Homo sapiens: one gene and its partners. The protein of the gene in region 2 interacts with the protein of the main gene of each other region in a pairwise test. Each region holds a gene or a part of one and is shown on either strand. Other genes may lie near its edges.

Region 1 (6,581 bases), on a different chromosome or scaffold from region 2:
TTTAAGAAAATTAAAATTATATCAAGCACTTTCTCAGACCACAGTGGAATAAAACTGGAAATCAACTCCAAAAGGAACCTTCAAAACCATGCAGATACATGGAATAACCTGCTCCTGGATGATCTTTGGGTCAAAGATGAAATCAAGATGGAAATGTAAAAATTCCTCAAACTGAATGACAATAGTGACACAACCTATCAACCTCTGGGATACAGCAAAGGTGGTGCTAAGAGGAAAGTTCATAGCCCTAAATGCCTACATCAAAAAGTTGGAAAGAGCACAGACAATCTAAGGTCACATCTCAAAGAACTAGAGAAACAAGAACAAACCCAGCAGAAGAAAGAAGATCAGAGCGGAATTAAATGAAATTGAAACAAAACAACAAAAAAATCCAAAAGATAAATGAAACAAAAAGCTGGTTCTTTGAAAAGATAAATAAAATTGATAGACCGTTAGCAAGATTAGCCAAGAAAAGAGAGAAAATCCAAATAAGCTCAATAAGAAATGAAACGGGAGATATTACAACTGACACCACAGAAATACAAAAGATATTCAAGGCTACCATGAACACCTTTACATGCATAAACTAGAAAACCTAAAATAGATGGATAAATTCCTGGAAAGATACAACCCTCCTAGCTTAAATCAGGAAGAATTACCCTGAACAGACCAGTAACAAGCAGGGAGATTGAAATGGTAATTAAAAAATTACCAACAAAAAAATGTCCAGGACTAGACGGATTCACAACAGAATTCCACCAGATATTCAAAGAAGAATTGGTACCAGTCTTAAAGACACTATTCCACAAGAGAGAGAAAGAAGGAATCCTCCCTAAATCATTCTATGAAGCCAGTATCACCCTAATACCAAAACCAGGAAAGGACATAACCAAAGAAGAAAACTACAGACCAATATCCTTGAACATAGATGCTAAAATCCTTAAGAAAATTCTAGCTAACTGATTCCAACAACATATCAAAAAGATAATCCACCATGATCAAGGGGTTTCATACCAGGGATGCAGGGATGGTTTAACATACACATGTGCGTAGCCAAAGCAAGACTAAGCAAAAAGAACAAATCTGAAGGCATCACATTACCTGATTTCAAACTTATACTATAAGGCCATAGTCACCAAAACAGCATGGTACGGTTATAAAAATAGGCACATGGACCAATGGAACAGAATAGAGAACCCAGAAATAAACCCAAATACTTACAGCCAACTGATCTTCAACAAAGCAAACAAAAACGTAAAGTGGAAAAAGGATACCCTTTTCAACAAATGGTGCTGGGATAATTGGCTAGCCACATGTAGGAGAATGAAACTGGATCCTCCTCTCTCACTGTATACAAAAATCAACCCAAGATAAATTAAAGACTTAAATCTAAGACCTGAAACTATAAAAATTCTAAAAGATACCATTGGAAAAATCATTCTAGACATTGGCTTAGGCAAGGATTTCATGAACCCAAAAGCAAATGCAATAAAAACAAAGATAAATAGCTGGGACTTAATTAAACTAAAGAACTTTTGCAGAGCAAAAGGAAAAGTCAGCAGAGTAAACAGACAACCCACAGAGAAGGAGAAAATCTTTCATAATATATACATCTGAAAAAGAACAAATATCCAGAATCTACAATGAACTCCAACAAATCAGCAAGAAAAGCAGTCCCATCAAAAAGTGGGCTAAGGACATGAATAGACAATTCTTAAAAGAAGATATACAAATGGCCAATAAACATATGGAAAAATGCTCAACATCACTAATGATCAGGGAAATGCAAATCAAAACCACAGTGCGATACCACCTTACTTCTGCAAGAATGGCCATAATAAAAAAATCAAAAAAATAGTAGATGTTGGCATGGATGTGGTGAACACGGAACACTTCTACACTGCTGGTGGGAATGTAAACTAGTACAACCACTATGGAAAACAGTGTGGAGATTCCTTAAAGAACTAAAAGTAGAACTACCATTTGGTCCAGCAATCCCACTACTAGATATCCACCCAGAGGAAAAGAAGTCATTATACAAAAAAGATACGTGCACACGCATGTTTATAGCAGCACAATTCGCAATTGCAAAAACGTGGAACCAACCCAAATGCCCATCAATCAATGCGTGGATAAAGTAACTGTGATATATATACATACAATGGAATACTCCTCAGCCATAAAAAGGAGTGAATTAATGGCATTCACAGTGACCTGGATAAGATTGGAGACTATTATTCTAAGTGAAAGAACTCAGGAATGGAAAACCAAACATCGCTATGTTCTCACTCATAAGTGGGAGCTAAGCTATGAGGATGCAAAGGCATAAGAATGACACAATAAACTTTGGGGACTCAGGGAGAAAGGGTGGGAAGGGGATGAGGAATAAAAGACAAAAATTGGGTGCAGTGTATACTGCTCAGGTGATGGGTGTACCAAAATCTCACAAATCACCACTAAAGAAGTTAACCAACACCACCTGTTCCCCAGTAACCTATGGAAAGAAAGAAATGTCTCATATGTTTCTGCCTAAATTGGTCTTTAATACTTTAGCGATTCTCTTGAGTTTGGATTATAAAATAGTTTTTGGTCTTTTTGTATTTTCTGCTGTAAGCCTGTATGATTATGTAATGGTGAGTAAAATTGCTAGGCCAGATACGCAGTTCTAGGAAGTTATGCAAAGATGTGCTTTAGTATATTATTTTCTACCTTTTTAAATTCATTTTGAGCTTGGCTTTTGAGCCTCTATTTTCCAAGGTGGGGTGTATGTTTTTATAATGTTATGCTTAGCCCTTGTGTATTTTCATCTCTGAGTTTGAAATTTGGGGTTATATTGGCAAAGGGAGGTTTGGGTTTTAATTAGGTGACCTGTTAGAGGAAATGTTAAGCTTCTGTTTCTTTAGGGTAGACAGTGAGAGATTTATCAAGATAAAGAAGAAAAATAAATCCTAAAGTTAATATTCAATACATGATGATGTCACCCTTACTAAAGCCAAAGAGGGCATTATCCTATCATTCTCATCGCTAAGAACTCTTCTCCTCTTGGCACATGCTTATTCAGTTAAAGATAAGCCAAGCCTTTCTTTTGTATTTTTTTTTTAAGAGAACAAATTTACTTTGGTTTTGAGTTTTATTCCTGGCTCTGGGTAGCTTATTTTTTTGACCCTTATTTTCCCCAATTTATAAAATGAAATAGTTATCTTCACTCCCCAGGATTGTTGTGAAGAGTAAGTCAAAAGATACAATGAGGTGACTCAGGCAAAAGTACCTGGCCCTGTGTAGTGAGTACATTGTATGTGTTACATATATTCTTATTCCTGAGAATCCACGAAAGAATGAATTAAATAATGAGGACCCTTTCATCAGGGTTTCTGAGTGAGTTTTTTAAAATACAAGGTAGTAGTTTGTGTAAATACTAAATCCATTGGTACCTGTGCAGAATGTAGGAAATGGAGTTGCTAATTCCAAAAAAACAGCACATATGCTGAGGAAAGTATAATACGTAATATATATGGTTTAAGCAATGTAAAATTCCATGAATATGTTCCTTTCATCTTAAAATTTGTGATTTAAAAAACATTGATATTACTATAAAGAATTATTATTATTTCCCTTGATTTACAGAGTATTGTTACAATCACATTTGAAGTACCAGGAAATGCAAAGGAAGAACATCTTAATATGTTTATTCAGGTGAATGCAATTTTTAACTGATTAATGATTTATCAATGGTTTTGTTACATAGTTGTTGCTATTAGCGATGGTTGGTCTTATTAAAATATGTCACTTGATACAGAATCTTCTGTGGGAAAAGAATGTGAGAAACAAGGACAATCACTGCATGGAGGTCATAAGGCTGAAGGTACAGTTTACTGTTGCAGACTTTTGGACAAAGTCCTTTTCTTGGCTGTTATAAAAACTATATTTGGTTTTAAACAGAAACACTGGTTTTAGTACAAATCATCTTTGTCTACTTTCATTTTTCTTTATTATTTTCATGACTGAAAAGGAGCTTTGGAAATCACTGCATAAGGCTTGATTTATTTGCACAACTTTCTTTAGGGTTGCAGCTAGAACAAACCTGTGTGCTTTGAAATGTTACCTTCTGCTCTCTGTTCCCAAGTACAGAGAAATAATGTTGCAAATCTCACTTCTGCTGAACATTATGCTTCCTGATGCATTTAGCAGACACTAAACATTTGTTGTACTCTAAACAAAGTTACAAAGGACTAGAAGAATTCTTGTTCTGTATTTAGAAACCCACTCACATTACTTGATATTTGGGTATTTAAGTCATGAAAGGTATTTCTTCTAGGAAGCAGTGATTCTAAAGTGTATGCTTAACCAGTCAGTTGAGTGTCTACTCTTGTGTGTTCACAAGTGTGCACAAAGTTTTTGGTAAATTAAGAATATTATTTCAAATAAATTAATTTCATCCCCATAGGAGCCAGTTTATCAGATAATTCGTTTCTCATTTCTGCAAATCAATACACAATGAGCTCATATTCAGATAAATTGAGCTCATATCCAGATAAATATAATAGTTTTTCTTTATTTCAACATTGTTCATTGATTGCAACCCATTTCTAAAACAAATTATTTAATATAACAAAACTCCTTTAACTTCTCAACTTTTCCCACTAAAACTGTGAAACATTATATAAAATCTTTAATCAATAGGATATGATACATATTTCATCATTTTGTTTCAGGTTTTGGTTGTGATAAATAACACTGAAAAACCATCCTAATATATGTATTAACTTTATCATTAGAAAAGGGGATTGTTCAAAAAAAAATCAATACACAGAAACCTTTTTTGAAAATTAAAAACATTAAGAAACTTCTTGTAATTCACAAATAATTGGAATTAAGTAATTTTCTCAGCTTAAGAGTTTGTATTTTTTAAGTGAATATCAGTAATTAATCCATTAACATTGATGCTCTATTTCTGCTTTTAAGTTTGAACTGAGGCTGATTAATGTTCAGTCAATTCTCCTTTGAGCAGGGATTGGTGTCAATCAAAGACAAATCACAACAAGTGATTGTCCAGGGTGTCCATGAGCTCTATGATCTGGAGGAGACTCCAGTGAGCTGGAAGGATGACACTGAGAGAACAAATCGATTGGTCCTCATTGGTAAGTCTCAAAGGATTCACAGTTTTGAAACAAAGTGAAAAATATATTTGAAAGGGATATCATGTGCCACTTAAACAGATTAACCATTCAGGTCCTCTTTTAAAACTAAATAAGCTTGTGGTCAATGTTTCATCTTTGTCACATTACAACGTTCGTAAAAGCTTGTTAGGACTTTTGTTCTTCTTCAATTTTAGAAAAGTGGTTAATCCAAGGACCAATGTGACTTTGATGTACTGACCTGGAAAGTTAAAGATGGAATCACTCAATTACTATTCTTTTTGTAAATTTTTAAACACCATAAAGCATTTAATGAACTGGAATTGATAGGTGAACTGTGTCATTTTAATAAGCATAATGTAATCACGTCATATTTTGTTTTGTTTGCAGGCAGAAATTTAGATAAGGATATCCTTAAACAGCTGTTTATAGCTACTGTGACAGAAACAGAAAAGCAGTGGACAACACATTTCAAAGAAGATCAAGTTTGTACATAACACTAGAGGCATTTCTTATCAAAAGGATTGGATAATAAAAATAAGTTTCTACTGGGTATATTTCAAGCATTTATTTATTACTTTAGTTACGAATTCCAATATACTTTAAAATGGTATTTGTTTTACAGCATACATAAAATGTAGCAAATCAGTACTGTAAAACATTTAACATTCATACAATTATATATAATATCCTTTTTTTTAAAGAATGGTATTTCACAAAAATATCTTTTGAAATTGGCTTTGGAGTTTACATATACTGAACATGAAAGTTTATAATAATGATGATACAACTTTCAACATTGTCATTTTTTCTTAGAACTTCAGCTGATTGCAGAGATATAATGATTACATTGTTATTAAATTTTTTTAACACAAGTAAGTGTCACCATTTTATGACATGAAATAAAAGGTTATGACTGTTATTGATGTTGATGTTGACGACCTGATCACCTGGCTGAAGGAGTGTTTGTCAGGTTTCTCCATTGTAAAGTTACTCTTTTCCCCCATTTCATACTGTGCTCTTTGGAAGGAAATCACTATGCACAGCCCACACTAAAGGAATGGGGAGTTGTAGTGTACTTTCTTGGGAGTGGTCTACATAATTAATTGAAATTCTTCTGCGAGGGACAGTTGTCCCTTTCGCTTTATTAGTTCGATCATTTATGTTTATCAGTGTGGACACATGAATATTTTATACTTTGGGTTACAATTTAATACTACTTTATTTTGTTGCTCAAATTATCCCAGCTTTGACCATTGGGAACTCTTTCCGTTATCTCCTGTTCCCCCCTTTGACATACCCCCATCAATGTGGGTTTTGTGTTTTGTTTTTGAGCGCCTCCTTATTTTTCTCCTGTATTTTTAAATAACCCCAATCCCTATTGAAGCTGGCTCTAGGAAAACTAACAATACTCCCTTTCCCAGGTCATCCGATTCCTATGCTGAT
Region 2 (7,028 bases):
TATCAACTTTTTTTTTTTTTTAAAGATTCACATGAGTGAAATCATGTAGTATTTATCTTTCTGTGCCTGGCTTATTTCACTTAACATGATGTCCCCCAGGTCCACCTGTGTTGTCATGAATGACAAGATTTCATTCTTTTTTATGGCTATATAGTATTCCATTATATATATATATATATATATATATGCGTGTGTGTATATATATACACATATATAAACACATATATACACATAATATACATATATGTACACATATACACACACACACACACACACACACACACACACACATTATCCATTCATCTGTTGTTGGACACTTAGGTTGATTCCATATCTTGGCTGTTGTGAATAGTGCTGCATTAAACAGGGGAGATAATGGATTGCTAGATCATGTGGTAGTTCTATTTTTATTTTTTTCACCTGGCCATTCTTAAGTTTATTTTGATGACACCCGGTGACAGTTCCCTGTACCTAGAAGAAGGTGTTGGGACTCTTGATGTTGGAGTGTGGCTTGTGCTGAAGACACAGGACCTGGTAGGGCAGCAGGAACTTGATCTTGGAATTGTGGAACTGCTTGACTGTCGGCCGGTGGCAGTACCAGAAGCGGGACTTGGCACAACTTGCTTAGGTGCAGAGATTTGCTGGCAGTAGAGGGGCAGCATGTGGCATTTGGGGGTGGGCAGGCAGCAAATACTCTCTCAGTGTGCCCCAGGCCTTCATGGCATTCTCTCAGCACTTGCCACCACTTACAAAAAGGAAGTGCCGTCTTTCCTATTTTGAATTTTTTAAAGGAACCTGCATTCTGTTTTCCATAATGGCTGTACTAATTTACAGTCCCACCAACAGTGTGTAAGTGCTGCCTTTCTCCACATCCTCACCCGCACCAACACTCGTTTTCTTTTGTCTTTTTGATAAGAGCTGTTCTAACTGGAGCGAGGTAGTGTCTCATTGTGGTTTTGATTGGCATTTCCCTGATGATTAGTAGTGTTGAGCATTTTTTCATATACCTGTTGGCCATGGTACGTCGTCTTCTGAGAAATGTCTGTTGAGGTCTTTTTCCCTTTTGAATCAGGTTTTTTTTTTTTTTTTCTGCTGTTAAGTTCCTGATATATTCTGGATATTAACGCTTTGTCAGATGGATAGTTTGCAAATATTTTCTCCCATTCTGTAGGTTGTTTCTTCACTCTTAATTGCTTCCTTTGCTGTGCAGAAGTTTTTAGTTTGATGTCATTTCATTTGTCCATTTTTGCTTTTGTTACCAGTGCTTTTAAGGTCTTACTGAAAAAAACACTTGCTCAGCCCAGTGTTGTGAGGCATTTCTCCTGTGCTTTCTTCTAGTAGTTTCATGGTTTTGGATTTTACATTTAAGTCTTGAATCCATTTTGAGTTAATTTTTGTATGTGGGGAAAGGTAGGGGTCTGGTCTCCTGCATATGGATATCCGATTTTCCCAGCACCATTTATTAAAGAGACTGTCTTTTCCCCTGTGTGTGTTCTTGGCACCTTTGTTGAAAATCAGTTGGCTGTAGGTGCATGAATTTATTTCTGGGCTCTCTGTTCTGTTCTATTTTGTCTGTTTTTATGCCATAACATGCTGTTATGGTTACTGTTATAGCTTTGTGTAGTATGGTTTGAAGTCAGGTAATATGATACCTCCAGCTTTGTTCTTTTTGCTCACAACTGCTTTAGCCATTTGGGGTCTTTTGTGGTTCCATACGAATTTCAGGATTGTTTTTTCTGTTTCTGAAGAATGCCATTGGTGTTTTGATAGGGATTGCATTAAATCTGTAAATTGCTTTGGGTATTTTAATAATATTCTTCCAATTTGTGAATGAACACGGGATATCTTTCCATTTTTTGTGTGTCCCCTTCAACTTCTTTCATCAATGTTTTATAGTTTTCAGTGTAGAGATCTTTTGCCAGCTTGGTTTAATTTATTCCTAGGTATCTTATTTTTTTGGTAGCTATTGTAAATCGAATTGTTTTCTTGATCTCTTTTCCAATGGTTCACTGTCACGTATAGAAACGCTGTTTTTTGTACATTGATTTTTGTATCCCACAACTTTACTGAATCCGTTTATTAGTTCTGTCTGCAAACAGGGATAACTTGACTTCCTCCTTTCCAATTTGGATACCTTTTATTTCTTTCTGTTGCCCGATTGCTCTGGCTATGACCTCCAGTACTATGTTGAATAAAAACGGTCAAAGTAGGCATCTTTGTCTTGCTCCTGATCTTAGAGGAAAGGCTTTCAGCTTTTCCCATTGATTATGCTGTTAGTGATGGGTGTGTCGTGGGGAATTCCCATGAGCATCATCATTTCATCGGAAAGGGCTCGAGGACACAGTGAGGAGGGGCTGGATAGGAGAAGCATAGTGGTCATGGGAAATGAACCAATCATTGAGCACTGACTCTTCTTTTGTTGGGATTGGGTTTTTTGGGGACTGCAGCATTCTTTTATACAGCAAAATGCAAGAGCCTGGAGCTGTGCTGGATGTGGTGGGTGCCTGGCTCCAAGACCCAGCCAATCAAAACCTTCCAGAATATGGAGCCTTGGCAGAATTTCACGTGCAGCGGGTGCTGCTGCCTCTGGGCTGCTTATCGGAGGCTGAGGAGCTAGTGGTGGGCTCTGCAGCCTTTGGTGAGGAGCGGCGACTGGATGTACTTCAGGCCATTCACACAGCGAGGCAGCAGCAGAAACAGGAACACTCAGGCTCTGAGGAGGCCCAGAAGCCAAACCTGGAAGGTAGGACATTATCCCTCTGCGACCTCTGTAAAGTGGACTTGCGGGCTTGCACTGTACCTCGGGGTCTGTCGTGAAACTCCTGCGAGCTTAGAAGCAGTTCTTTGTATGAATAACTCTTGAGTCACAGAATAGGAGGCCTGTTGATTTGCTTCACAAAGTGAAGGCCAGACCCTCTGAAGTTGGCAGTGGAAGGAGAATCTCCACATGGGAAGGTGTTGCTGGGTCTTGGGACCTTGACTTGTCTTTTGAAAGTCATTTTCCCATTGGAGTCCTCTGATGAGGTCTCTTGCTTCCACCATACTGGTCTGGGTGGGATGTCCTTCCTCCTTTAAATGCTGGCCCCAATACAGACACAGCTGAGATCTGCTGGGATAGCCAAAGGAATATCAGAAACTAATTTGCAGACCCTTTCCCTGGTCGCTGAATCTTTTCCGCCCTTTTCCTTGAGTGATGATCTAGTCTAGTTGTGAATACTTCAAGGACAGAAAGTCACCATCTCTCTCTCTTTTTTTTTTTTTTTTTTTTTGTTTGAGACGGAGTCTCGCTCTGTCGCCCAAGCGGGAATGCAGTGATGCGATCTCCGCTCACTGCAAGCTGCACCTCTCAGGTTCACGCCATTCTCCTGCCTCAGCCTCCTGAGTAGCTGGGACTACAGGTGCCCGCCACCACACCTGGCTAATTTTTGTATTTTTAGTAGAGACGGGGTTTCACCGTGTTAGCCAGGATGGTCTCAATCTCCTGACCTCGTGATCTGGCTGCCTTGGCCTCCCAAAGTGCTGGGATTACTGGCATGAGCCACTGCGCCTGGCCTGAAAGGTTCTGAAAGGTTTTAAAAAACTTTTACAAAGATGCATTCAATATAGTAAATAATATATAGTCAAAATAAGTAATAAACACGAGGAAAACAATTTATATTCATGAGATTTGCAAGAGTATGTGCAGTTAAGGAATGAAGGCTTTAGCCAATACCTAATACCCTTTTACTAAACTCTTTTTTTTTTTTTTTTGAGACGGAGTTTTGCTCTTGTTGCCCAAGCTGGAGTGCAATGGCACGATCTTGGCTCACTGCAGCCTCCACCTCCCAGATTCAAGTGATTCTCGTGCCTCAGGCTCCCAAGTAGCTGGGACTACAGGCGCACACCACCACGCCTGGCTAATTTTTGTATTTTTAGTAGAGACGGGGTTTCACCATGTTAGCCAGGATGGTCTCGATCTCCTGACCTTGTGATCCACCTGCCTCAGCCTCCCAAAGTGCTGGGATTACAGGCATGAGCCACTGCGCCTGGCCTGCTCAGGTCTTAGAAGCAAGCACAGAGGTCGGGGTCAGGGAAGCTGATTCCCATGACATCCCTGAAGCTGTGCTCTGTCTCCCTGGCCAGGCTCTGTCTCCCACAAGTTCCTGTCACTACCGATGTTGGTTCGCCAGCTTTGGGACTCTGCGGTGAGCCACTTCTTTTCTCTGCCCTTCAAAAAGAGTCTCCTGGCTGCCTTGATCCTCTGTCTCCTGGTGGTGAGATTTGATCCAGGTAAGAGGTGGAGACTCTCCCCTGTCCTTCCTGGGAAGGGGTTGTTGCCAGGGCTGGGCCTGTGGGAGTGGGTGTTTGTCAGAGTCCTACTGGGGAGGGGAGTCTCTCCTATGACATTTCCCCTGAGTCTGTTCCACAAGGAGGAATTGCTAGACTGGGCATGAGCCAGCCCCACCCATAAGGAGAGGCCAGTCCTGGAGTCTATGAGAGCAGCCAGGAGAAAGTCCACTTGGCCCTGCTGACTCCTGAACATGGACTGAGTCATAGTCCTCCACTTTTTCTAGGGCTGAACTCTGACTAGAACCTCAGAATTTAAAAAAACTTCCTCTTGGCCAGGCACGGTGGCTCACGCCTGTAATCCCAGCACTTTGGGAGGCCAAGGCAGGCAGATCACAAGGTCAGGAAATCGAGACCAGCCTGGCCAACATGGTAAAGCCCCATCTCTACTAAAGATACAAAAAAAATTAGCCAGGTGTAGTGGCACATGCCTGTAGTCCCAGCTACTTGGGAGGTTGAGGCAGGAGAATAGCTTGAACCCGGGAGGCGGAGGTTGCAGTGAGCCAAGATCGCACTGCTGCACTCCAGCCTGGGCAATAGAGCGAGACTCTGTCTCAAAACAAAAAACAAAAAACAAAAAAACTTCCGCTCATCAGAATATCTACAAAAGTGTTAATTCAAGTATTAATGTCTCATGAAGTGTTAATTCAAAGCAAGTTGTAAATGAAAAACTCATACATTTTAGAAAATGTGGAAAATAGGCCGGACATGGTGGCTCACACCTGTAATCCCAGCACTATGGGAGGCCAAGGAGGGTGGATCACCTGAGGTCAGGAGTTCGAGAACAGCCTGGCCAATATGGTGAAACCCCGTCTCTACTAAAAATACAAAAATTAGCCAGGTGTGGTGGTGCGTGCCTGTAATCCCAGCAACTGGGGAGGGTGAGGCAGGGAGCATTGCTTGAACCCAGGAGGCGGAGGTTGCAGTGAGCCAAGATTGCACTGTTGCCCTCTGGCCTGGGCTACAAGAGCGAAACTCTGTCTCAAAAAAGAAAAAAAAATGTGGAAAATAGAGAAAAGTATAAAGAAGGGCATAGAAATCTGCTACTCTGCTGTGCTTTCAGTCTTTTTCTATGGATATAGAGATTGTAGGCAGTTACATGTCACACATATGCTTTCAAGCATGGCCTTAAATCGCTAACTATTCCAGTTCACAGGAATGCCCCTAAGTAATTTAACAACCCCTATTATTGAACATTTGGGTGATTATTCTGTTTTCTGCCTCGCTGTGAAGAAGGAATGAGCTCCCTAAGTGATATTTGGGAACAACCCCAGTTATTTCCTGAGGATTGACCCCTCAGGTGCATGAAGCCAAACTTGGCACTCGCTCTTTTAGATTTTTTTGTGTTACTCAGTGTGAGTTATGTTCTAATCTCTACTCTTCTCATGAATTTAGACTTAGAATATGATTAAATAAGTTTCAAAATTTAAGAGGAAATCAGAAACCCTTATACTGGTCCCTTCAAATGGTTTGTCTATTTTGAGAAGTGCCATTTGTTAACTTAGTCTTTAGATTCTCCCTGTTTCCCCATTTCTCTTTCTCTTATTCAGTGAGCTTTTTTAAAATATTTATTTATTTATTTTTATTTTTATTTTATTTTATTTATTTAGTTTTTGATACTGGGTCTTTCTCTGTTGCCCAGGCTGGAGTGCACCGGCGTGATCTTGGCTCACTGCAACCTCTGCCTCCTAGGCTCAAGCGATCTTCTCTCCTCAGCCTCCCAAGTAACTGGGACTACAGGCATGTGCCTCCATGCCCGGCTAATTTTTTATTTTTATTTTTGAGACAGAGTCTTGCTCTGTTGCCCAGGTTGCAGTGGCGTGATCTCGGCTTACTGCAACCTCCGCCTCCTGGGTTCAAGCGATTCTCCTGCCTCAGTATCCCAAGTAGCTGGGATTACAGGCACACACCACCATGCCAGGCTACATTTTGTATTTTTAGTAGAGACGGGGTTTCGCCATGTTTGCCAGGCTGGTCTCCAACTTCTGGCCTTAAGTGATCCTCTCACCTCAGCCTCCCACAGTGCTGGGATTATAGGCACAAGCCATCATGCCTGGCCAGCGAGGTTTCCGTCACATAGCTCAGAGTTGTCCTTCTAACCCGTCTGCTGAATGCTGAGCAGGGATCCCCTGTGGACGACTCTGTTTGCTTTACAAAGAAGTCACGAGTTAGCGCTCGGAATGCTCAGTATCATCAGCGTTCATCCCTGGCCACCTCCTGACTGATACAGATTTAGAAACTCTTTATGATTCTTTATGGTTCCCGTAAGCCCTTTAGTCTCGTAAACCCTGGTCTCCTAGTGGGGATGGCATGAGGACATTTGAGCCTGCTCTTTCCAAGGCTGCTTCAGAAGGGCCTGGCCCAGTGGCCCTGACCCTCAGCAGCAGGCCCGACTCATTGGAGTGATGATGGTGGGGGAGGAGAACCTGCACCTGCAGGCTGAGGATCGCATGAGCCCCAGAGATTGAGGCTGCAGTGAGCTGAACACAGACTGCACTGTACTCTAGCCTAGGTGACAGAGCGAGACCCTGTCTCTAAAAAAAACAAAACAAAACCAACTATGTGTAATTGGTAGTGGAGTCTCCCAGGGTGGGAGATGGCAGAGTGACAGGTGAGAGGGGTGGGACGTTCACTGTAGTCTCCCTCTGCCCTGCAGCTTCCCCTTCCTCCCTGCACTTCCTCTACAAGCTGGCCCAGCTCTT
Region 3 (7,028 bases), on a different chromosome or scaffold from region 2:
ACAGCCAACCTGAAAATGCTCATCAGTGCTGTGAGCCCTGAGATCCGCAACAGAGATCAGAAAAGGGGTTTGTTTGACAACAGAAGTGGATTACCTGAGGCCAAAGACTGTATACACGTAGGTTTTCAGAGGACTGGTTGGAGGCTGGGGAATTTGTTGGGGGGAGGGGGGAGGTTGTAGCTATTAGAGAAGTGCCAGCAATTTAAAGCATCACCACCCGAAGGCTGTTATTAACTTCCTTCGGAGCACCAGAAAGGTTTGGACCCCAAGAAATATAGCTCTGGGAATTCTGAACCTTTGCGTTATTTTCGTTTCAGGCTTTCCTTTCAGGTTTGCCAAGCATTTTGTACTGGCCCCCCTAACCTTTTCTCCCATCCAGACTTTGCAGCTGTTGAAGCTAAGCGTGTGTAAGTTGGTGTCAGTCATCGAGCACAGATGCCCCTAATAAATCTGTCAGACTTTATTTTAGAATAAGACATTGTTTACCTTTTCCTTTGTAGGAACACTTATCTGGAGATGAATTTGAGAAATCCCAACCAAGTCGAAAAGAGAAAAGTTTAGGATTATTGTGTCATAAGTTCTTAGCACGATATCCTAATTATCCCAACCCTGCTGTGAATAATGACATCTGCCTTGACGAAGTGGCAGAGGAACTTAGTAAGTATGCAAAGAACTCACTGAAAGAATTAATAATTAAAGTGGCTTTATGGACTTAACTCCTTCAGACCCCCGCTCATCTAGCCAGTGTTTGTAAATGACACAAATAAGCCGGCATGGAAATTTTCTATCTCTAAAGCCCTCTTCTAATATAAGAATGAAGGTAAGTAGTTGCAAATTTCAGCAAATCTTGGAGGCAGAAAAGTCACAATGGAGGTTGCTTCTGACTACAGTTGTCTCTGAAGCTTTAAAGAAAGGCAATATTGTCTCATGACTTGTTTCACAAAGTTACAACTGTGAACTTTTGCTTCATTGCTCTCCCTTGCTGTTCTTGAAGAATCAGGCTGATAAATGGTTATCTTCCTAGTTGACGCTGAGGATCAGCTTCTGTGAGTGGGAACAGGACCTGTGCACTCCTGGACCTTCAGCACTATTCTGAGGACTAGTTTTCTGAATGTTTTGTGTTGGGCACAAGTTATTCCTCCTGCCCCTTTTTACTCTGTTCAAAGACCTGAATCTATTTGGAGCTAAAAAGGGGCCCGTGGTGAATTTGGGGTACCTTTGGAGTCATGTGGGTATCTTAATTTAAACCTGTGAAGTGATGTGCTGTGCAAGATAATACATTTTAATACAAAGCAATCACCCCGTGAAGAAAAGTTGCCCTTCTAATACATGTTTGTAAATATCAACTTTATTTCACATTTTAAGAATATACCGTTTAGATTCATCTACTTTTCATATATGCTTAATGGTAGCTGGGTAGGATATTCAGCAAATATCTATTAATCTTCTACTACTATGTGTCAGGCAATGTTGTAGGAGCCTGGGATACATCCGTAAACAAAAAGGGCAAAATCTCTTCTCTCTTAGAACCTATATTCTAGTGGGGCAATAGATACTGAGTAAAGGATATAGGAAGTAAGTAAGGATAATACATGCTAGAAGGTAACATGCATAGTGGAAAAAATAAATTGTAGATCAGGATCAAGGGATCAGGAGTGCTGGGGAGGTGCTTTGCCATAAGTGGTCAGATCAGGCTTCGTTGAGAAGGTGACATCTGGGCAAGGACTTGAAAGAAGCAAGGTAGGGAGCTGTAAGGACATCAGGGAGAAGGGTTCCAGGCAGAAGGAACAGCCGGTACAAAGCAAGTGCATATCTGGCAGGTTCCAGGGACAGCAAGAGGTCGGTAGGATGCACCCTTATTAAAATAGTGTTTTATTGATCACTTTTCCAGAAAGGCTGATCTCATCAAATATTTAAATTGAAATTAAGTTTCTTGAACGAAGAGAATTCTAACATTACAGAATATTGAAAACCCAATTTAAATAGATAGAGTCACAGAATTACTAATATCATATTGTTAATGATAGCTAGAAAGTAAGCAAAATTAGACCCAAAAAGGCATATTTTATTTTTATGTAAGTTTTTAAAAACTACATCATGGTTTTTGTACTTTTCTGAAATCTCAGCATTTTGTTTCTATCTTATGATCATTACAGATGGGCGTGTGTGTACGTGTTTGTATTGGAAGCGGTTGGAAGGTGTGAGATGTAGAGTTTTAAAGACTTGGTTTGCTACTTGCTAGCTCTTTTGGGGTGAGCTACTTAGCTGGTCTGAGCCTCTGTTTTCTCATCGTTTTTTTTTTTTGTTTGTTTGTTTGTTTTTGAGACGGAGTCTCGCTCTTTCGCCCAGGCTGGAGTGCTGTGGCGCGATCTAGGCTCACTGCAAGCTCCGCCTCCCGGGTTCACACCATTCTCCTGCCTCAGCCTCCTGAGTAGCTGGGACTACAGGCACCCGCCACCACACCCGGCTAATTTTTTTGTATTTTTAGTAGAGACTGGGTTTCACCATGTTAGCCAGGATGGTCTCCATCTCCTGACCTCGTGATCCGCCCTCCTCGGCCTCCCAAGGTGCTGGGATTACAGGTGTGAGCCACCGCACCCGGCCTTTCTCATCCTTTTTAAAGTGCAGATCATAATACCTACTTCACAAGTTTAGGGTGAAAACTTCCTAAAGCTGTGTAGCACAACTTAGGCCCTCATTAAATGTTGCCTTTCTAATTCATATGATTTGTGCCCTTGGAAAGCAAGCACATGTCTTTCTCACCTTCACAGTATTTGTTGAGTATGTTCACTTACAGTTAGGAAAGTGATATTATCCAAGACCTACTGACTAATAAACCAATGGAAGAAAAAGCTATTCAATTCTAAACACGTTACAAAAATCTGTAACACACAATTGCACATTCTTTGTAGATGTTGAACGTCGACGCATTTACGATATCGTGAACGTCCTAGAGAGTTTACATATGGTGAGCCGCCTCGCCAAAAACAGGTACACTTGGCACGGGCGACACAATCTCAACAAAACCCTTGGCACCTTGAAGAGCATCGGGGAGGAGAATAAGTACGCCGAGCAGATTATGATGATCAAAAAGAAAGAATATGAGCAAGAGTTTGACTTTATTAAGAGTTACAGTATAGAGGATCATATCATCAAATCAAACACTGGCCCAAATGGACACCCAGACATGTGTTTTGTGGAACTCCCTGGAGTGGAATTTCGGGCAGGTGAGAGATGGTAGTGAAAACTCCAGGCGGCATGGCATTTGTCCTCTGTCTAAGGAAAAGGTTCTGTGGAGAACACAGCTCTAAAGCTACTGCTGCCTTTAATGTTCAGATGCCACAGTTGTCAGCTGTATGATCAGGTGGTAGTATTTTTAGCCTTGTTACTTTAGAAGTCACTTGTCCCTTTATGAATTTTAATTCTCTAATCCTCATCCTTCTCTAAAGCTTCTGTAAACAGCCGCAAAGACAAGTCTTTAAGGGTAATGAGCCAGAAATTTGTGATGCTGTTTTTGGTGTCAACGCCTCAGATAGTAAGCCTAGAAGTTGCTGCCAAGATTTTAATTGGGGAGGACCATGTGGAAGATTTGGATAAAAGCAAGTTTAAAAGTAAGTGTCATGACTGCCATGGATTTTTGAACCTATTCTTAAACAATAAAATCTCAGTCGTAAACTCATTTCCAAATTAGGAAACATAGGTGCATAAACAGATCTTCTCTAATTATGTTTTTATATCTTCTCCCCAGAAGCCATGATAATATTGATTTAGCTAACTTGTTATGATACATAAGTATCACTACTCTTTTTTTTTTTTTTTTTTTTTAGACGGAGTCTAGCTCTTTTGCTAGGCTGGAGTGCAGTGGCGAGATCTAGGCTCACTGCAACATCTGCCTCCCGGGTTCCAGCAATTCTCCTGCCTCAGTCTCCGGAGTAGCTGGGATTACAGTTGCGCGCCACCACACCCGGCTAATTTTTATATTTTTAGTGGAGACGGGGTTTCACCATGTTGGCCAGGAGGATCTCGATCTCTTGACCTCGTGATCCACCCACCTCGGCCTCCCAAATTTTGGGAGGCCTCCCAAAATTACAGGCCTGAGCCACTGCGCCTGGCCAAGTATCACTACTCTTATTTGACACATTGCTTCATTTGATATTGTAACATTGTTCTCAAAAGTAAACACGGCCAGGCGCGGTGGCTGAAGCCTGTAATCTCAGCACTTTGGGAGGCCGAGGAGGGCGGATCATGAGGTCAGGAGATCCAGACCAACCTGGCTAACACAGTGAAACCCCGTCTCTACTAAAAATACAAAAAAATTAGCCGGGCGTGGTGGCGTGCACCTGTAGTCCCAGTTACTCAGGAGGCTGAGGCAGGAGAATGGCGTGAACCTGGGAGGCGGCGCTTGCAGTGAGCCGAGATCGCGCCACTGCACTCCAGCCTGGGGGACAGAGCAAGACTCTGTCTCAAAAAAAAGGAAACACTAGAAGAATCTGTTCTGTGTGAGCTCTAAATGAGAGTAAATTGTAAAGTGGGTCTGCACCCTGGTCTCCTTCCACTGATGCTGATTACAGAGGGTTTATAAATGACTCATAAAATTGTCCCCAGAAGTGACCTGCAGCACAGGTAGTCTGCCATTTTGAAAGAATGGTTTTAGCTAGATTACCTGCTCAAAATTGGGAAGGGACTGTAGATTGGATTCCTAACAAAAGAGCTATGCCCTCACCATTACACCAGACTTTGCAGGAAGGGTGTGGAAAGAAGTGCTCAGCGGATGGGGAGGAGCACTTGGCTCGGGAGATCGGGAGATCTGCAATTTCAGAAAACACGTCCTGATACTACTGAGGGGTTACTTGCCTTTTGTGAGTCACCGGATAGTTTTCATCTTTGTTTCACTGGTTAGTCATAGCCTTGAAAACTATTCCAGGAACTGCAGAGGTGTAAGTTACTGAATCCCCAGGGAATTCAGAACCTTCTGATATGGCTAGGAAGGAGACTCGATTTGTAATTTGTACTATCAAGATGGCAGTAAAAAACAGACTTTTTGTAACAAAACTCTTTAAGATATGTGAGGTTTGTCAAGTTCACAGATCTATGTTTTGCATGTTACATAGACAGTATTAAAAAATTACACATGTTGATGGAGTACAGAATTTTCCATGCTGCCATAGTAAATAAATTTTGTTATAAGCTATTACAAGCAGAAAAGCAAGACATTTATCACAGATACTTTTACTTCTCTGCTCATAAAATTCTTCTGAATCCTCATTAGAAGATACCCAGGAATGGTGACTTTATTTTTGAAACAGTCTGTAACATAGTTTCAGATAGGGTGATCTCATCAAGTCGTTTTTCCTTTGTCAACGTATGCTATTGTCATTTCAACATTGAGTACTAGCAGTAATTGAGTCTTTTAAATATTTAAAACTTTTTTATCTTAATTAAAGTTGTATCACCAGAAGAACTTAAAAGGAGGCAGATGTTTCTCTGTCTGACATTGATGGTTAAGACAGCTCTTAGAATATACATGAAGTCCTTCTGAAGGAAAATTCTTTGATCTTTTCATTATTCCATTAAGTGGTATATATACTTTTTTTCCCAGCAAAAATTAGGAGGTTGTATGATATAGCTAATGTTCTGAGTAGCCTGGATCTTATCAAGAAAGTTCATGTTACAGAGGAAAGAGGCCGAAAACCAGCTTTCAAATGGACCGGCCCAGAAATCAGTCCAAATACCAGTGGTATGTATTTTTTTCTTTCACCCTCTGCTTTATTATTTGTGTGTGTGTTTTTCTAATTTTTAATTTCCAGTGTGTGTTGTTCCCCTCCCTGTGTCCATGTGTTCTCATTGTTCAACTCCCACTTACGAGTGAGAACATGCAGTGTTTGATTTTCTATTCCTATGTTAGTTTGCTGAGGATGATGGCTTCCAGCTCCATCCGTGTCCCACAGAGGACATGATCTCATTTCTTTTTATGGCTGCATAGTATTCCATGGTGTATATGTACCACATTTTCTTTATCCTGCTTTATTATTTTGAATTAATGCACATTGGGAGATATTTTCCCTTCCCCTTCCTACTCACCGCCCCACATGGAAAAGATATATATGATTGAAAAGATGATTCAAGATGAATGGCAATATAGAAAGTTTGGCTACTGGCTCCATCAGCTAACCAAGATCCATAACAACCTCCCACCCTGTGTTCAAGAAGTACAATCTGTATGTGAAAGCATTCGGAAAGTTGAAAGCACCACAAAGCATAAAACACTATTGCTGCTATGCGGCACAGTGACCACAACAGAACCTGTGCCCATTGAGAATATGAAATGAGTTCACTCTGGTATCAAAGTAGATATTTCTAGCCTTCATCTTAACTCTGCGATGCTGACATTTTGCATTCTACCAAAGATCCCCACCCAGAATCATTGAAAATGACAAGAACGTGGGCCATGAAGACAGAGGGAAACTTAGGTTCCATTCCAAGCCCTGCCACTCTGGCTTTGCGGCCTGAGACAAGCTACTTCTTCGAGGATTAGTTTTCTCCTTGGTGAAATGGGAAGAACAATGGCACCTCAGTGGAGTTACTGTGATTTTGGTATAATCTCAGAGAGAGGTCCTTTCGTGCAGGAATTTGGAGTGAAAATTCCGGGGCCATATTGACCAGGTTCATATCCCAGGCCCACATGCTCCCAGTTGAGAGACCTTGAGCCAGTAGGTTAATGTCTGTGTGGGTCAGAGCTCTCATCTCCGACACAGGGCTGCATTTCTTGAGGAACAGTTACCTCATGGAGCTGTGAGGATCACCCATATTTCATCAGATCTAAGACTTCACTGATTGTAAGATGCACAATTCTTTCTATATCACTAAGAAAGAAAAATCACTAATAACTACACTCTAGCACACCACTGGTTATAAGATATAGTGCAGTTTCAGAAATGCTAATGTAGGAAATATTGTGTCTCAGAATCCATTTAATAAGATAAACAAGGCTTTCTCTGTAAAGCCCTTAGAACAGTGACAGGCACATG
Region 4 (7,028 bases), on a different chromosome or scaffold from region 2:
CTCCAATTCAGGAGCCTTTTCCAAGTTGCCCTCCTCCCCTAATTTGGAAGCGCACAATTCCCCCTTATGTGTCACTTGAGCTCCAGGTAATTTCTTGATGCACTGGAAGGACATTAATTGAGGTCTGGAGAGAGGAGGGAAGAGAGAGGAAGATCCAAGCCCCAAGGGAATCTGTGCCCTCCTTGTCCCCTCTCCTTGAAAGTGGGAGTTCTCCAGAGGGTACGCGTCCCCCTACCCTTACCCAGGTACTAGCTGAGACGCGCGGAGAGGGCTTAAGAGCGCCCCTCCAAAGGCCCAGCCCCGCCTGGAGAGAGTGGGCGGGCACCGGGTCCCTGGGGGAGGGGCTGTCGCAGGTTTGGGAGGGAATCCAGCGGGGCTGGCCGTAGCCTGGGCAGGCCGTAGCTTGGGCCGGCGGGAACCCGCCACTGGACTGAAGAGGCGTCTGGCCGTCGCTGACGCCGCTGTCCCCTTCCCGATCCGTCCGCCCGCAGTGTCATCCTGTACGGACCGCAGTTTGTCCCCGGACCTCCAGGACGCACTGCAGGACGACCCCAAAGAGACGGACAACTCGACCTCGTCGGACAAGGAGACGGCCAACAACGAGAACGAGGAGCAGAACTCGGGCACCAAGCGGCGCGGCCCCCGCACCACCATCAAGGCCAAGCAGCTGGAGACGCTCAAGGCTGCCTTCGCCGCCACGCCCAAGCCCACGCGCCACATCCGCGAGCAGCTGGCGCAGGAGACCGGCCTCAACATGCGCGTCATCCAGGTGCGGCCCGGGGCGGGCACAGCTCCTTAGCCCCGCTGGCCTGGGAGCCGGGAGCCTCGGAGGAGTCTCCCGCCAAGCTTCCTTGGCTACGAGCGCGCCTGGTTCTGGTCTGGGAGCAGACCGTGCGCCCGAGTGGGGCACTTGCCCGAGGTCGGGGACTGTGAACCGAAAGATTCCATCTAGCCCTGCTGTCCTCCTGGTATTGCGATTTGGGGGCGGGTCACTTTACCTCTCTGAATTCCGCCCCCCGCCTTGCTTATGGAAGGTTGTAAGCCTCTCTGGGGTCCGGGATCCCTCTTTACCTCCACCTTTCGAGCAGAGAAACAGGCGATGCCCCCTCCCTCCCTGCGCCGAAGCGCGGGCAGACAAACGGCCAGAGGCTGGCTCCGGAGCCGAGGGGCCGAGGCGAGAGCCGTGCCGGGAGGGAGGCCTTTATAGAGCCGTCAGGCCGCGGGCGAGCCGGGGACCAGGAAGCCCAAGTCTTTATGAGTCGCCCCACGGGTCCGCGAAATCCTTCACCCTTGGCTGGTTCGCCGAAGCCTCTCTCCACCCCTCCCGGCCTAATCCGGCCCGGCCCCGCCTCGGGGGAGTCCTGGTGCGGAAGAGGCGCAAGGACCCAGCAGGGGCAGCCCAGTCAGGGAAGGGAGAAGAGGGGGGGAGAGGACACTCCTGATCCTGGGTTCACAGCCCCCTCCTCTGTCCCAGGTGTGGTTTCAGAACCGACGGTCCAAAGAACGCCGGATGAAACAGCTGAGCGCCCTAGGCGCCCGGAGGCACGCCTTCTTCCGGAGTCCGCGGCGCATGCGTCCGCTGGGCGGCCGCTTGGACGAGTCTGAGATGTTGGGGTCCACCCCGTACACCTACTACGGAGGTAAGGGGCGCCCCGGGATTCGCTGTTCCGCACCTGTCCTATTCCGGGAGCTGAGGGCGAAGGGTCCCGGCCAGCACGCTTTCCGCCGCTCCAGAACATCGCCCACTCGCTGGACACACGATCACAGACACATGTACACTCACCCACATGTCCTGGACACAAAATCAGATACATGGTCTCACCCATACAGTGATGCACACAGAAGCACACACGAGATACAGTGACACATTCACCCACGCAGGGCACAAGGTGCACTCACACTTGCGTTCAGAGACTCCAGGGACACACGTCTAGACACGATCGCACGATCACGTATAGGTAAATTCCACCCTCTCACACACAGGTACACTCACGGAGACACAACTCCACAGACGCGCACACTCCCACCAGTCACACTGAGGCCAGTACTGGCAAATCCACATGCATGCGGCCCCCACGGACAGACGCACAGCCTTCCTGCCGCCCTGTGCCTGGTGTACTTGGCATGAGGTGGATTCCGAGCGCTGGAGGGTAGTGTGAGGGGAGGGGATGGGGGTCTGGATTCATTCCAAGCCGCCTGCTCACTAGCATCGAAGGCAGCAACTCCTGTTCCATGTGGCGGGGTGTGTGCGCACAGCATCTGGCAGTGTTAGCCCAAATGCCGGCAGTTGCTCTGGGCAGGACTGTAGTCCACCCTCCAGCCCCGAGACCCCTGGGGTTCCTACAGACTGGGGGCACAAGTGTTGGGCCAACCCCAGATTTCCACCGTCTTTGGGGCTGCAGAGAGCGAGGAGCCCCAGTTTACAAAGGGCTTCAGATGGTGGTACCAGGCTTGGGCCTGGGGTGAGCTGTCCCCTTGCCACCTCAGCTTTTCCTCCTCTCACTTCCCTCACACTGGATTGGTGAGCCATCCCAACTCCCCCTATCCGATTTTTTCAGCTCCTTACCCTGAGCCGCATTGCTTGAGCTCACCAAGCTCACTGTCCTGTTCTTCCCAGGGCTGAGGGCTCAAGAAAGCACCTCTCCTCTTCTATTCTGAAGCTTCTGAATTTGGAGAGACCCCAGGACTGTCTATGTCTGAGAGGCATCTGCACTTCTGAGTTGTAACGCAGGTTAGGAAGAGGCAATTTCTCTTAGAAAGTGGGTTCAGTGGCAGTGTTAGCAAGGCAGGAGCTAGGCACCCAGGTAGACGCAGAAGGGAAGGGAAGATAACCCCATCACTAACCTCAGCACATCCGGAAGCCTGAGGGGGGATTAGACCTTGAGACCGGACCGGGGCCCCTAGAAATTGTGGGCAAAATGCCAGGCTGTGCTTTTCAGGGCAGAGACCCCAGGCAGTGGCAGGGCTCAGGCTGGAGCGCCCCAGCCGCCCAACCCTGGACAGCCCCCCAACCCTGGACAGACCCCCAACCCCGGACAGACCCCCAACCCTGGAGAGCCCGGATGGTGGGCGTGTCTTCCGGAGTCTCCACTCACCGACTCTCTCCACCTAAATTTGCCTCTTTCCCTACAAAATCTGGGCCCGGAGCAGCGAGGTAGTGGGGGCGGTACCGGCCCGGAATTTTTCCCCGCCTGGATAATTAACCAAGGTTTCCCCGAGGACCACTTCGCCCCCGCCCCGACCTATCCCACCGCCTCCTCTCCCTGCGCGCTGGATGAGGTGGGGAGCTGGATACTGGGGGCCCCTCGTTCCCCGTAATGGTGGGGAAGACTCCCCAGCCCCCAGCGAGGCAGCCCCGCCTAATCCGCGCTGGGAGATCCCGGCGGTGGCGACCGGCAGCGGGCGAGAAAGGGGCCGGGCGGCGGGGCCGGCGGCTCCCCGTGGGAGCGCGGACAAAGCCCCAGCTGCGGCTTTTGTGCCCTTTTCAGACGGCGTTTGTTCCAATTACCTCCGGCCCGGCCGCCATATGGGCGGAGGCGGCGCGCACGGCGCGGGGGCAGCGGCCTTCGCTGGTTTTCCGGCTCGCCGCGGGCCGCGGCCGTCTCCCATCCCTGTCCCTTTGGGGCTCCAAATTTGCCGCTCCCCATCTTCCCCTTCACTTTCGGGGAGAATTAAATTAATGGTTTTAAAAAGTAATTGGCAACCGTTTTAGCTGTTGCTTAAACTGCCTCCAAGCCACGCCTCCAGACACCCCCCATTTGGACAGATTTCAGGGTTTGGAGAGGGAAGAGGGTGGCAGGGGGCATCAGGAATTCGCCCCTTGACTGAGATCCCAGGACTCAGCAGGGGGAGTGGATTTGCAGAAGAGACTCAGGCTTCTGGACTCGCTGGTTTTCCCGCCGTACAAAGCGGGTGCCTGGTACAAGGTGGTCCTTTCGTGACGTCCCCCACGTCAGTCCTTCAGGGCCCCACCTGGTGGGGGAAGGCAGGATATCCCGAAGGTTCTGGAAAAGGGGCTATGTGGGGCGGTCAGAGAGTTGATACAGATTTGTTGAGGCAGAATGGGTTTGCAATCCGGAGTCCCTACACCTCCTGAATTTATGGGCAAAATTCTCATCCTTGCATTTTCCTTGAGAGAGAGCCCATAGCTATCACCAGCTTCTCAAAAGATCTCAATGTCCTCAGATGCTTCAGAACCTGGGGGTGCTGGCAAAACCAACCCGGGGCAAGGCTGGAGGACCGAGCTTCTACCCCAAGGAGCCCGCGGAGCTCTGGCCATGACCCAGAGAATCTTCGTGTCCTCCTCCCCCTCTCCCAAGTCGCTGGAGCTCAGTTTTCTCTTTCTCAGGCTAGGCTAGGCCGGTACAAATGGTCTCACCGGGATCGACGCGGCGGCCGTACTTGGCGAGGCGAAGGACTTGGACTGGGTTGGTAGGGCGCAGGGACCGAGTTTAGGGCGCCAAGGCCGCCCCGCCCGGCCCAACCCACCAGTCGCTCCTGCCGCGGCCCGGATCCAGTTTCCCCCGGCCAGGTCGCTTCCCGGTCTCAACCATTTCGCGCTCTGCTCTGTCCGCTGGTTTGTCCCTGCCCGGTTCCTCTCCCCGGGCCTGTCAGCCTCCGCTTCTCTGGAGGTTCCTGGGACTCATCTCTGATCCACCGTCTTGCGTTCTCTGGGCGCATCGACTTCTCTCCATCTTCGGGCTCACTCCTGACTCCCTCGCTGCCGCCCCCGGGGGTTTCCACGCGTGTCTCTAACCGCGGCCGTCTTTCCTCTCTCTGCGTCTCCTCGACTCCTCCGCGACCCTCCGATGTCTCGGGCTTTCGGGTCTCAGCCGCGGACTCCGCGTCTCTGGGTCTCTTTTCCGCCTTTCTCTCTGCCCCTCTGCCGATCTCTCCGTCTGTCTCTCGCTGTCCCGCATCTCTGTGTCTCTCACCGACCCTAAGACACTTAGGAATCATTGTCTGTCTCTGCGTCTCTGGCCGCCTCTGTCTCTCTCCATCTCTAGGTGTCAGGGAACCTGTGACTGAAGTCTCCGAGTTTTTGCCGCGTGTGTCCCCCACGGTCTCGGAGTCTCTCCCGTCTCTGTGTGTGGTCTCTGGCAGTCTGAGTCTCTTGCCCTTTCGAGATCTCTCATTGTCTCTCTCCCCAACCCTCCCCGTGAGCCTGCGACGTCCACCGTCTCAAGGGGCGCCGGCCTCCGCAGGTCTCTCTAACCTTGGGTCGGTGTCGCGCGCTCCCCTCTCTCGCCCGCCCGGGTCCCCTCCCCGGGTCCCGGGTCCCCCGCCTACTTCGCCTTCTCTCACCGCGCCCTGTCTCCTTCCCGCTCCCCCTCCGCAGACTACCAAGGCGACTACTACGCGCCGGGAAGCAACTACGACTTCTTCGCGCACGGCCCGCCTTCGCAGGCGCAGTCCCCGGCCGACTCCAGCTTCCTGGCGGCCTCTGGCCCCGGCTCGACGCCGCTGGGAGCGCTGGAACCGCCGCTCGCCGGCCCGCACGCCGCGGACAACCCCAGGTTCACCGACATGATCTCGCACCCGGACACACCGAGCCCCGAGCCAGGCCTGCCGGGCACGCTGCACCCCATGCCCGGCGAGGTATTCAGCGGCGGGCCCAGCCCGCCCTTCCCAATGAGCGGCACCAGCGGCTACAGCGGACCCCTGTCGCATCCCAACCCCGAGCTCAACGAAGCCGCCGTGTGGTAAGGCCGCCGGGCCGCCCCCCGCGCTCGGCCCCCGGGGGCCCCGCCCCGAAGCAGCCTCCTGAAACCAAAACGCCCGACGCAGACGCGGTGGGAGACGTGGGTGTCCCTCGGGGGTTCTCTCTCGGGTCCGCACTCAACTGGCAGCTGCTCCTCGGCTGGGCGCCGAGGGGGGGCCGACCCCCATCTCCACCCCGCGGGCTCTCCAGGAGCCTCAGCCCACCGCCAGTACTCTCCCAGCAACCGCGAGCAATTTCTTGGGACCAAAGTCAATACTCCGGAGGGTCAAGAGATTTCGAGCACGCTCTAGACTTTCCCCGGGCCCCCACCCACCCACCCAGCCACCGCCACCTCTTTGGACTGAGAGAGGGTGAGGCCAAGGGGCGGAGACGGTGTTTTTCCCTCTCTCTGCAATCCGAGTGGCATTTTGTAATCTTATTTCTCGCTGTGCTTTCCCCGTCTTTAAAAAAAAAGATGATAAGAAAAGGAGAGAGATTGAAAGAGAGGGAGAGGAAAGGGGGCAAGATGAGGAGGAGATGGAGAGACAGCGTCAGCCAGAGGGAGAAGACGGAGAGCGAGCGAGGAACTCGCGTGAACCGGGAGCCACCGAGAGGGAGACCGAGCCACCTGCACGCTGGCGCTCCCTGGTGGCCAATCTTGAGGCTCAAGGTCAGCTTCTCTAGGAATAGGGCTGTGGGTCAGGAAGTGGCCAGCCGGGTCCAGCTCCCGCTCTTCCTTACTTTGACGTTTATGTTGAGCCCGAGGGAGCAGGCCGGACTCGAACACGCACACATCCTGCTCTCCCCCTGGGTGGGGCGCCAGGATTGCTGGGCTCAGACCCACAGACCACCCTCCCTGCCCAGGGCCTGGAGGCTGGGCCGTCAGGATGTACAATATTATACTTTTTTGGAAGTTGAACGCTTCTAGTTTCCTTATTTTGTATAAAGAAGAAACAAATAAAGTATGTTTTTGTGTTTACTGTTTATTTATTGTACTCTAGTTATCCGGGGTTGGACATTTTTATATTTTTAAGAGGAGGTAGGGCAGAGTGACGGAGGGGAAGCAGAAAGAGGTTTACCTAAAAAAAACAAAAAACAAAAACAAAAAAAATCAACTTTTTTTAAAGAGAAAGATTAATAAAAAAAAATCTTTTTTCCCTCAGCGCTGTGTGGTTTTCTTTTTTTGTCCCTACCTTGATAACGACTCAGAGAGAATGAAACCATTCCTTTCCCTGGTTCTGGTCTCTGACATTAAACCCTTGATGGGTGCAAAAACCTCTGCTCACCCAAAGGGGGAGCTCTTCTAGTGACTCCCAGGTTCATGAAA

Evidence for each region.
Region 1: the proteins of PEX26 (region 2) and ZNG1C interact in binary tests that used the Homo sapiens proteins (3 or more experiments, as listed by UniProt).
Region 3: the proteins of PEX26 (region 2) and E2F8 interact in binary tests that used the Homo sapiens proteins (3 or more experiments, as listed by UniProt).
Region 4: the proteins of PEX26 (region 2) and LHX5 interact in binary tests that used the Homo sapiens proteins (3 or more experiments, as listed by UniProt).

The regions. Positions count from the first base shown.
Region 1 is NC_000009.12:68,293,956-68,300,536, forward strand, and holds the end of ZNG1C (zinc-regulated GTPase metalloprotein activator 1C), read left to right. Parts: intron 1-3,624; coding exon 3,625-3,693; intron 3,694-3,796; coding exon 3,797-3,862; intron 3,863-5,008; coding exon 5,009-5,138; intron 5,139-5,525; coding exon 5,526-5,632; 3' UTR 5,633-6,080; downstream 6,081-6,581.
Region 2 is NC_000022.11:18,080,990-18,088,017, forward strand, and holds part of PEX26 (peroxisome assembly protein 26), read left to right. Parts: intron 1-2,447; coding exon 2,448-2,743; intron 2,744-4,122; coding exon 4,123-4,269; intron 4,270-6,982; coding exon 6,983-7,028. UniProt on the Homo sapiens protein: Peroxisomal docking factor that anchors PEX1 and PEX6 to peroxisome membranes. PEX26 is therefore required for the formation of the PEX1-PEX6 AAA ATPase complex, a complex that mediates the extraction of the PEX5 receptor from peroxisomal membrane.
Region 3 is NC_000011.10:19,230,943-19,237,970, reverse strand, and holds part of E2F8 (transcription factor E2F8), read left to right. Parts: coding exon 1-117; intron 118-500; coding exon 501-657; intron 658-2,912; coding exon 2,913-3,227; intron 3,228-3,449; coding exon 3,450-3,611; intron 3,612-5,599; coding exon 5,600-5,737; intron 5,738-7,028. UniProt on the Homo sapiens protein: Atypical E2F transcription factor that participates in various processes such as angiogenesis and polyploidization of specialized cells.
Region 4 is NC_000012.12:113,461,868-113,468,895, reverse strand, and holds the end of LHX5 (LIM/homeobox protein Lhx5), read left to right. Parts: intron 1-491; coding exon 492-769; intron 770-1,474; coding exon 1,475-1,640; intron 1,641-5,338; coding exon 5,339-5,706; 3' UTR 5,707-6,863; downstream 6,864-7,028. UniProt on the Homo sapiens protein: Plays an essential role in the regulation of neuronal differentiation and migration during development of the central nervous system.